Linked DNA regions of Homo sapiens. The protein of the gene in region 1 interacts with the protein of each later gene in a biochemical or structural test. Each region holds a gene or a part of one and is shown on either strand. Other genes may lie near its edges. The genes, in order: DNAJC19 and PAM16.

What was found.
Region 2: the proteins of DNAJC19 (region 1) and PAM16 form a complex in vitro, tested with the Homo sapiens proteins (one study listed by BioGRID).

The regions. Positions count from the first base shown.
Region 1 is NC_000003.12:180,983,103-180,986,923, reverse strand, and holds the end of DNAJC19 (mitochondrial import inner membrane translocase subunit TIM14), read left to right. Parts: intron 1-927; coding exon 928-998; intron 999-2,213; coding exon 2,214-2,284; 3' UTR 2,285-3,215; downstream 3,216-3,821. UniProt on the Homo sapiens protein: Mitochondrial co-chaperone which forms a complex with prohibitins to regulate cardiolipin remodeling.
Region 2 is NC_000016.10:4,348,056-4,355,676, reverse strand, and holds the start of PAM16 (mitochondrial import inner membrane translocase subunit TIM16), read left to right. Parts: upstream 1-4,355; 5' UTR 4,356-4,442; coding exon 4,443-4,445; intron 4,446-7,621. Other genes in the region: CORO7 (coronin-7), read left to right, coding at 305-391, 514-519; CORO7-PAM16 protein, read left to right, coding at 305-391. UniProt on the Homo sapiens protein: Regulates ATP-dependent protein translocation into the mitochondrial matrix. Inhibits DNAJC19 stimulation of HSPA9/Mortalin ATPase activity.

The DNA.
Region 1 (3,821 bases):
TTTTAGCATTTTTCTACCACTGTAGAGCCATGAGGAAATATAAGAAAGACCTTCTCTCCTTTAATAGGAGAGGGTCATGGGGGATTTTGTCCTAGGAAGATTGATATTACCAATTCTAATCAATGAAACTGTACTGTTCCTTCATGTTATTTTTAAGATGTAAACAATCCTTCAAATGAGAAGGCACACTAGCACTTAAGCACTTTTTCTTTTTTCCTAGAGTGTTTACTAAAACACAGGCACTTTTTCATTTATTTAAAGATAGACTCCTCAGCAGATTATCACAGTGTTCAGTGTTGTTCTCTGTAACTGACATTTTTTTTGTGGTGAAATTCTGCCTTCAACCGGGCGCGGTGACTCACGTCTGTAATCCCAGCACTTTGGGAGGCCAAGGCCAGTGGATTACTTGAGGTCAGGAGTTCAAGACCAGCCTGGCAAACATGGTGAAACCCCGTCTCTACTTAAAATACAAAAATTAGCCAGGCGTAATGGCACACACCTGTAATCCCAGCTACTCGGAAGGCTGAGGCAGGAGAATCGCTTGAACCCGGGAGGCCGAGGTTGCAGTGAACCAAGATCAAGCCACTGCACTCCAGCCTAGGGGACAGAGTGAGACTATCTCAAAAAAAAAAAAAAACAAAACTCTTCCTTCTTCATTTTCAAATCCTTAAACATGCGTTTCTTATCAATAAAAGGACTGTTGTAATGGGTACTGCAAGTTCAACACATTTTTGAGAGTGCCTTACTTTTCTAAGTAGTTTCCCAATTTAGGATACGCATTGGGTGTGTTGAGGTTTCTAAACAGCTTTTCATACTGTTGTGTTAATTTACTACAGTTTCACAGTGTCTTTAATTGGCCTTTATGTACAGTTTTTTGATGTGATGCAGAAGTAGGATGAAGTAAATACCATTTCTTTTTTTAATTAGCCCTACTGCCAATAAAGGGAAAATAAGAGATGCTCATCGACGAATTATGCTTTTAAATCATCCTGACAAAGGTAAGTAGTCATTAAATTCTCGTTGATGTTGTTGGTGTGACCAATAGTTATTAATGGGATAATTTTATCTCAAATTCCTGGCTATTAGAAAGGTAACACTTAAATCTGTAAGTCCTGTCTCCTAGGCTGGAGCCATATATTTTTGGTGTCTTAAAAGAAATTAAGTGAAAACTTTACTTACAGAATGAGCAGATGTAAGTGCTACTATTACTATGTTTTGTGGGTTTTTCTGGCCTACATTTATTATAATTAAAACGTTAAATTTCGTAAAACTAAAATGTAATTTTTCCTTATCCATTTTAGATACCTTGAAACGGAGATTACCTAGATAGAAACTTATGGGATTTATTTATTCGTTTGTGATAGACTTCTATGCAGCCTTGGCTGTGTTGAAGGAAAGCAAGAATTTCTTTGAATACCAAAAAATAGACCACAGAATTCATGTTCTAGTGTTTGTATCCTTTTACTTATACAGGAGAGGGCTTTCATTAATAAAAAGGGTTTTGACATTTTAAACAGGGTTATAATTGTTTGATATCTACTTCACAGTATCTTTTATGAAATTTAGCTTGTTTTATATGGAGGGCTTCTGACTCAGTAGGTCGGCAGTGGAGCCCCATAAATATGCATTTATACTAAATTTCCTGTTATTTCTTGCTGGTCTTAGGACCATACTTTGAGAATCACTCCTCCAGCAGATTCGTAGGAAAGCAGCTGTAGATGACATTGTGAAGGGACAGTAGATAACAGGAAAAGAAAAACTGGACAGAAAAAGGATGTAAAGCAAACTGGGATCTTTCCAGTAAACAGCTCAGAAGCCTCTGAGAATATCATGGTATTAAAATAACATGGTATAATTGATGTTCATTTATGACCTGTAATCATGAATAGGCTAACACCAGTTCAAAGGCATATACATATATATCTAATATATATGATAGAAATCCTATTTCTATCAGTTTAAGCTTTCTAAAAAGGTGTTATTTTTGTAGAAATATCTCCCACGTAAATTACTTCATTTCTCATTGGTCACATATATTACCATATATTTGGTCATCCAGTTGCAGTGTCAGGGTTATTTTTTAAAAATTAAAACACTGTTTCTGCTAAATCTCCCTCAGATAAGCATTGGAGTCCTTGAAACAAGAGTAGCTTTTTACCAAGCAGAAATTGAGAATCCATATTGTAACTGTTCTTTTTTCTTTCTTCCTATAGGAGGATCTCCTTATATAGCAGCCAAAATCAATGAAGCTAAAGATTTACTAGAAGGTCAAGCTAAAAAATGAAGTAAATGTATGATGAATTTTAAGTTCGTATTAGTTTATGTATATGAGTACTAAGTTTTTATAATAAAATGCCTCAGAGCTACAATTTTAAAAAATGATTTAGCACAAGCTAAATCTCAAAGCCTTGGTATAATTTTCTTGTTTAAATTTGGGGATTTTAAATCAGATTATAGTTTAGAATATTTGCGTATTAATTATGGGCAAGCACACACCTTCTGAATAGAAATATTGTTCATTACTCATTTAGCAGATAATTTGGGACCTATGTCTACTTTTCAAGGCAAAGTGAAGATGACAGTCCTTGCTCTCAGGGAGCCCCCACTTTAATGGGAGACTGATAAACTGGTAATTAGACTGTGATAAATAGTATGATGGAAATTAGCTTAAGCTGTTTAAGTAGGGACTCTTCTTATTCGGTGGAAAGGCTGTTCCAGGTACAGGCAACTGGCCTGGCAACTTGGATACTTGGAACCTTGTATTTAAAAGTGAATTTAACCACAACTGAGACCTAAGAAATTGACCTAGGGGTGTGTGTGTGTGTGTATTCTATGTACATATAAACCATTTTTATTTCATGCATTAAAAATAGTATGATAAAGATTTCAGAGTACAGGTCTGGTACAATCACAGTTCATTGCAGCCTCAACCTCCTGGGTTTAAGCAGTCCTCCCGCCTCAGCCTCCCAAAGTACTGGGATTACAGGCATGAGTATTTACATTGTATTCAGCTAGCCCCTTAAAGGTAATGACCATTTATAAATTATTCCTTCAGTTGGCTATTTCTTGACATAATCAAACTTCTGCAATTGTTATGATTAAGCTTAAACCCTGTTAGCAAAACTGAAAACTGAAATGTTCTCAATATCAACATATTTAATTTGGACTCTTTAGAATTTATACACTAATAAATTTAAATGATGTTTAAAGGCAAATTACTTACTGTTTGTCTAACATAAAATATATAAGGATCTTAAGAGGACCTGTATAAAACATCTGGTATAAACTAGTATGTATTTCTCAACAGGAGTATTTCTTATGTGTAGCTCTAAGATGATAAATTATACTACCTACCGTCTAAACTTCCTTAAGTCATCATAAGTTTCTTAATTATTGGAGGATACAAGGACTTTTGAGGTTAAAAAAATAGTGGAGGTAATATTTATCTGCCTTATAAAGTAAAGGTATATCTGCTCTTTGTGTTTTCTATCCAATACCCTCGTTTAAAATCTGATGGAGTCTGTTATGATTTAGTGTATGATGAAACACTAGCTTCTAAGGCTTTTATGCAGGATAAATTATTTCCAGGGACAAGGAGACATGAAAGTACAGCTGGTTCTTGTTTGTGGTAATTCTGTTCTTTAAGGTGGCTATGAACACTGAATTAGCAAATAAGGAACAAGTTCCTAAGAGAAATACAGATTCTGTGACCCTTTGGTCACAATATTGTCTGCCAGTCAGTATATAACCTTGATCGACCTGTTTCTGCTTGAAAACATTCTTTAGTATTTCATTAACTTTCAATTAACAGCCAACAGCAC
Region 2 (7,621 bases), on another chromosome or scaffold:
TAACACGGTGAAACCCCCGTCTCTACTAAAAATACAAAAAATTAGCCGGGCATGGTGGTGGGCGCCTGTAATCCCAGCTCCTTGGGAGGCTGAGGCAGGACAGTGGTGTAAACCCGGGAGGCAGAGCTTGCAGTGAGCCGAGATCGCGCCACTGCACTCCATCCAGCCTGGGCGACAGAGCAAGACTCCGTCTAAAAAAAAAAAAAAAGTTCTTTTCACAGCCTTGTCAGGGTTGTTCTTGGAGTGGGAGAGGGAACAGGGAGTCCTATTCCCTTACCTACCCTTCTTCTGCCCTCTCTCCCAGCTGCTGAATGCCATGGTGGCAAAACTGGGGAACCGGGAGGACCCACTCCCCCAGGACTCCTTTGAAGGCGTGGACGAGGACGAGTGGGTGAGTAGTGAGTGGCCTCACTTCCCGGCAGGCAGCGCGGTCCCTCGCACATGCCACGGTGCATGCCTCCTCCCTTCCCAGGCCCTCCTGACTCCCTCCCACCTCTTGGTGTTTCGCCCCAGGACTAGCCTGCGCCCCCGTCACCTCCACCTCACCTGTGCTGCCACTTCCTAGTGCACACCTCACGGCTCATCCTCAAGCTGGAAGATACCTCTCTGGCCCCGGCACATGTCACCCCTGCACTCCTGCCTTCCCGTGGGCACTTCCACATCCTCTGGGCCTCTGGCAGTTCCCAGGGACTGTTTTCACCTCTGCTGTCTCTGGGGTCAGCTGCTGCTCATCAGCTGCCCGCTAGCATGTGGCCAGGGGTGCAGGGTGGCGGGGGGTCAGCAGCATGTCCCTGGGCAGGCCCTGGGCACCCTGTCTCCCCTGGTCTCACTGCTGACCTGGGCTGGTCCCAGCCTGGATTGGCCTCATCCAGGATCTTTGGTCACCCCACGCTGCCCCATCTTGCCTGCTGTTCCAGTTCTGGTCAAGGGCCTTGGGGGCTGGCCCCCCACCAGGCCTTCTAGAGCAGCACCAGTCTCAGGGCCCTGGGACCAGCTGCCCTACTTCCCAGGTTTGTAGCCAGGAGAAGGGGGCATCACAGAGCTGATGGTCCAATAAGGGGGGTGTGAGCCCCGCAGGGACTGGCCCGCACCTGCCTTGGATGTTTTCAGCAATTAAACTTTTTTAAGCTGGCCACCTCTTGTGCTGCTGTGGTCTCTGGGCTGGCTGGAAAGGGAAGGGGACAGGAATGTGGGTGACAGGGGTCTGGCCCTGGGCTCCCCTTTATCTCAGCCTCACTCTGGTCCCAAGGCCCAATCACCTGCGCACTGCTGGGAGTCATTCGCTCACCATGCAGGTTCCTGGCAGTGCTCTGGATGGCGGGATGCTATAAAGGACAGGAGAGATAAGGTCTTGCAAGGACCTTCAGCTTCTTACAGCCTCCTTATGCAGGGGAACCAGACTGCACACGAGCATATAGAGTGTGAAGACAGCAGTAAAGAAGAGAAACTGGCTGGGCACGGTGGCTCATGCCTATAATACTAGCACTTTGGGAGGCCAAGGTGGGAGGATCGTTTGAGGCCAGGAGTTCAAGACCAGCCTGGCCCACATGGTAAAACGCTGTCTCTACTAAAAATACAAAAAGTAGCCAGGTGTAGTGGTAAGCGCCTGTAATCCAAGCTACTTGGGAAGCTGAGGGAGGAGAATTGCTTGAACCCAGGAGTCAGAGGTTGCAGTGAGTCAAGATCCTGCCATTGCACTCCAGCCTGGGTGACAGAGCAAGACTCAGTCTCAAAAAACAAACAAACAAACAAAAAAACCTGTGGGACAGGAAGCAACTGGGATGCAGCGAGGCAGGGAATTCAGGGCCTGAGAAGGTGACTTTCAGCTAAGAGCCAAGACTTGAAGGCTGATGAGGAGCCAGCCAGGGAGAGAGCCACTTCCGAGGCAAGGAAGTACAATGTGGGCACAGAGAGAGGAATGTGGAGGCCAGGAGGAAGAGGAAGAAGGGCAGCGGTGTAGAGTAGGATTCCAGGTGGCCCAACTTTCATCCCACCATTTGCCGAATGCTGTGCGCCAGATGCTCTTCCAGGCGCTTGACATCTAACAGCAGAGAAGAGAGAGGAAATGCTTGCCCAAAAGGAACTCCCATTCTAGTGGAAGGAAACAGATTCTCAACAATAAACATAAAAATAAAGGGAGGCCAAGGTGGGAGGATTGCTTGAACCCAGGAGTTTGAGGTCAGACTGGGCAACATAGGGGAACCCTTGTCTCTACAAAGAATACAAACATTAGCTGGGCGCGGTGGCTCACGCCTGTAATCCGAGCACTTCGGGAGGCCAAGGCAGGCGGATCACGAGGTCAGGAGCACGAGACCATCCTGGCTAACACGGTGAAACCCCGTCTTTACTAAAAATACAAAAAATTAGCCGGACATGGTGGCCCATGCCTGTAGTCCCAGCTACTCAGGAGGCTGAGGCAAGAGAATCTCTTGAACCCAGGAAGCAGAGGTTGCAGTGAGCCGAGGTCATGCCACTGCACTCCAGGCTGGGCAACAGGGAGACGCTCTCAAAAAGACAAAAAACAAACATTAACCACATGTGTTGGCACATGCCTGTGGTCCCAGCTACTCAGAAAGCTGAGGTGAAAGTATCACTCAAGGCTGGAAGGTCAAGACTGCAGTGAGCCATGATCATGCTACTGTACTGCAGCCTGGGCAACAGAGTGAGACCCTATCTTGAAAAAAAAAAATTTTTTTTTGGCTGGGCACGGTGGCTTACACCTGTAATCCCAGCACTTTCGGAGGCTGAAGTGGGAGGATCACTTGAACCCAGGAGGTGGAGATCGCAGTGAGCCAAGATTGGGCCACTGCTCTCCAGCCTGGGTGACAGAGCAAGACTTCATCTCAAAAAAAAAAAAAAAAGGAAAAATAATTTAAAAATAAAAAACCGGTTGGGCACAGTGTCACATGCCTATAATCCCAGCACTTTGGGAGGCTGTGGCGGGTGGATCATTTGAGACCAGTAGTTCAAGACCAGCCTGGCCAACATGGTGAAACCCTGTCTCTACTAAAAATTCAAAAATTAATGGGGCATGGTGGTCCATGCCTGTAATCCCAGCTACTCAGGAGGCTAAAGCATGAGCATCGCCTGAACCTGGGAGGTGGAGGTTGCAGTGAGGCAGGATTGTGCCACTGGACTCCAGCCTGGGCGACAGGGTGAGACCCTGTCTCAAAATGATAAATAAAATAAATAAGTAAATTATGTGGTATGGTAGAGGGTGATCAGAGTCTTGGAAGAAAAATAGAGACAAGAAGGGAGGATAAGCCAGTCACAAAAGGCTGCACATTGTATGATTCAATTTCTTCTTTTTTTTCATTTTTCATTTTTACCTTTTTTTTTTTTTTTTTTTTTTTTGAGGCAGGGCCTGACTCTGTCACCCAGGCTGGAGTGCAGTGATCACAGCTCACTGCAGCCTGTACCTCCCGGGCTCAAGAGATCCACCACTCAGCCTCCCAAGTAGCTGGGATTACAGGCACCTGCCACCACACCCGGCTAATTTTTGTATTTGTAGAGATGGGGTTTCACCATGTTGCCCAGCCTGGCCTTGAGTTCCTGACCTCAAGCGATCCACCTCGGCCTCCCAAAGTTTTGAGATTGCAGGCATGAGCCACCACGCCTGGCTTGTATGATTCCATTTCTATGAAATGTCCGGAACCTGTGAATCCATAGAGAGAAAAATGAGTGGTTGACAGGGGCTGGGGGAGGGGGCTGGGGAGTGACTAATGGGTGATGAAAACGTTCTGGAACTAATAGTGGTGACAGTGGCACAGCTCTGTGAATAAAAGGCATTGGACTGTGCACTTGAAAATCATGAAATCTACAGTGTATGGATTATATCTCAATAAAGCTGTTACTTTTTTCATTCATGGAGGGCAAGTCACGGCGTTTTAAGGGGTCCAGGTGGGCCTCATTGAGGTGACATTTGAGCAAAGATTTGAAGAAGGGAACGAGCTTCTCAGGCAGGAGGAATGTGGATGAAACCTATTTTGAAGTTTTCTATTTTCTAAAGTATTTTTGAGAATTTAGCATCCTACTCCATATTATGTTCATTGATTTCATATAATGTTGCATTCCCAAATATTTTGGCAAAATCAAGGGCAGAAATCGCCCCACGTCTGACCGATGTGCTTAGCTGCTCCAGCGCACTGGGGTAAGCACGCGGGCAATTGAGACTCCCGGTAACGCCCCTTGCCCTCCCAAGCCCGCCCCCAGTTATCCAGAGCCCGACGCAGGCTCAGTCAAACCCCGCCTCCGACCCCGCCCCGAGCCGCTAAGACGCTCCCGGTGGCCCGCCCTTAGACTGAGGCAATGCGCATGCCCAGCGCCGTATCGCGCACGCGCTCTCTGCGGCTTTCCTTGACCTCTGACCCGCCGACCACGCTTGATCCCCGGCCGCGGGGCCAGGAAGTCGGAGTTTGAGCCCCGGAGGCAGAGCGGCTGCCATGGTGAGCCCCGAGTCGGGCGCTACCGGGGAGGGGAAGCCGAGTCGGGCCGGGGGCCGGGGGCCGGGCGGCGAGCTCCGGGCTGGGCGGCGGGCGCCGTGCGCCCCCTGCGTGCCCGGCGGGAAGCATGGTCTGGGGGCGTTGCACCCGGGGGAATCGAGGCCGGCAGCGGCGGCACCGGCGGCCTCAGGGCCAGGGAAAACCGTCTGCCTGGAAGAGGCCGGGCAAACGTGGTCGCGCTGTGCCTAGCCCGCGTGTGAGCGAGCAGCCGTGGGCAGCGGTGGAGCATGAGTCTGGCTGGTGAGCGCCTCCCCTGCCCTGGAACCTTACAGCGCTGCAGAGTCGATGTTGCTGCCCTGTTGTTATCCCCAGTGGAAAGCTGGCCTTTCCAGGGAAGTGGCTGACCTGGGACTTGAACTAGGCCCCGAGACACCGAGCACGGAGCGTTTGTGTGATATCGTTGGCACGTAGAGCCAGTCAACAGACCTGCGCCACACTGTCAGGTCACCTAGGGTAGCTTTAAAAGTGCAGGTTTGGCTGGGCGCGGTGGCTCACGCCTGTAATCCCAGCACTCTGGGAGGCCGAGGCGGCGGATCACGAGGTCAGGAGTTCGAGACCAGCCTGGCCAACATGATGAAACCCGGTCTCCACCAAAAAATTTAAAAAATTAGCCGGGTGGGGTGGTGCGCGCCTGTAGTCCAAGCTACCCGGGAGGCTGAGGCAGGACAGACGCTTGAACCCGCGAGACAGAGGTTGCAATGAGCCGAGATCCGCCAGTGCACTCTAGCCTGGGCGACAGGGTGAGACTGCGTCTCAAAAAAAAAATTATATATATGTATTATATATACCGTATACATTTATGTATACTACATATTATTATGTTATATATATTTTTATATATCATGTATTTTATATATATATATACACACACACACACATAATATATACATATGTTAGCCAGGCATGGTGGCACACACCTGTAATCCCAGCTGCTTGGGAAGTTGAGGCGCCAGTATCGCTTGAACCCAGGAGGCAGAGGCTGCAGTGAACCAAGATTGTGCCACTGCACTCCAGTCTGGGCGACAGGGCAAAACTCTCTCAAAAAGAAAAAGAGGGGGAAAAAAAAAGTTCAGGTTCTTGAGCTCTATCCCTGGAGGTTCTGCACACGTAAGTTCCCCAAGTGACTCTGTTGCAGCTGGTTCGGGGAGCCACTTCTTAACTAACATAGTAATAAGGATAATGTAACAGCTAACGGCGTACAAGTGCCAGCCCCTGAGCTAAGGCTTTATGTAGAGTCTCTCATTTAGTGTTTATGAAGTCCTGCTGTCATTGTCCTTATTTTACAGATAAGGAACCTGAGCCCCAGACAGTTTTGACTCCACCATAGTCATGCATCCCATGGTGTCAGAGACCTCTTTTGAGCCCAGCTCTGTCCCAAAACTCATGGGGTTTTTTTGGTTTGTTTTTTGAGATAGGATGTCTGTCTGTCGCCCCGGCTAGGATGCAGTGGAGCGATCCTAGCTCACTGCAGCCTTGAACTCCTAGGCTCAAGCCATCCTCCTACCTTAGACCCCCAAGTAGTTGGGCCTACAGGTGAGTGCCAGCACACCTGGCTAATTTTTAAATTTTATGTAGAGGTGGGGTCTTGCTGTGTTGCCCCAGATGGGTCTCCTAGGCTGGAGTACAGTGGTACGATCACAGCTCACTGCAGCCTCAACCTCCTGGGGCTTAGGTGATCCTCCCATTTCATCCTCCCCAGTAGCCTCAGCCTCCCGGGTAGTTGGGACAACAGGCATGCTCCACTATGCCCAGCTAATTTTTTGTATTTTTTGTAGAGATGCAGTTTCGCCATGTTGCCAGGCTGGTCTCAAACTTCTGGGCCCAAGCAGTCCTCCTGCCTCGGACTCCCAAAGTGCTGGGATTATAGGCGTGAGCCACCGCACCCAGCATGACAGTATATTAACAGGAAAAGAAAGTGCTGGCCGGGCACGGTGGCTCACACCTGTAATCCCAGCACTTTGGGGGTCTCAGGCGGGTGGATCACGAGGTCAGGAGATCAAGACCATCCTGGCTAACATGGTGAAACCCCGTCTCTACTAAAAATACAAAAAATTAGCCGGGTGTGGTGGCAGGCACCTGTAGTCCCAGCTACTCAGGAGGCTGAGGCAGGAGAATGGCTTGAACCCGGGAGGCCGAGCTTGCAGTGAGCCGAAGGTCGCGCTACTGCACTCCGGCCTGGGTGACAGAGCAAGACTCCGTCTCAAAAAAAAAAAAAAAAAAAGAAAGTGCTAGGCCGGGTACGGTGGCTCACGCCTGTAATCCCAGCACTTTGGGTGGATTACCTGAGCTCAGGGGTTCGAGACCAGCCTGGGCAACACGGTGAAACCCTCTCTGTACTAAAAATACAAAAAATTAGCCGGGCATGGCAGCGTGTGCCTGTAGTCCCAGCTACTCAGGAGGCTGAGGCAGAAGAATTTCTTGAACCCGGGAGGCAGAGGCTGCAGTGAGCCGAGATCGCACTACTGCACTCCGGCCTGGGCGACAGAGCAAGACTCCATCTCCAAAAAAAAAAGAAAGTGCTGTCGGAAGGTATACATGGGAGAGCCTGGAAAGGGTTTCACCCGGGGGATGGGGAATGATATTAGGTCCTGAGGGATGTTGGGTTTTGACAGGATCAGGGTAGAAGGGAGGATGTTCAAGGTGGAGGAACTCAGAACAGCAAAGGCCCTGAGGAGTACAGAAGTATGAGAGCGGCTCTAGGAGCAGAGGGTGTGGCTGCAGCGTGGAGAGAGGTGAGGTTGAGAAGTTGAGGCCAGACCAGGCGCTGTGAATGCCAAGCTGGGGAGTGGACCAAATCTGCAGGCGGCGGTGGAGAATTGTGTGTTTACTGGGAGATGGCCAGAACCCTCCCGCAGAAGGGTTAGGAGGCGCTTGGAAACCCTGCCTGGGGACATGGAGTTCATGAGACAGCAGATTGGGCAAAGCTGCAACAGCCATATTCATTCAGATGCACCAGGGGCACTTACTGCGCCAGCCACTGGCCAGGTCCCTGATGTTGTGGCACGTGCTACAGTTGTGGTCCTGACCTTTCTCCTGTCTAGTTGTGATGCCCGTATCTATTCTCAGGGGCCCTGGGTGACCAGAGTGTCCTTGAGAGTGAGTCTCAGGCTGTCTGCTTA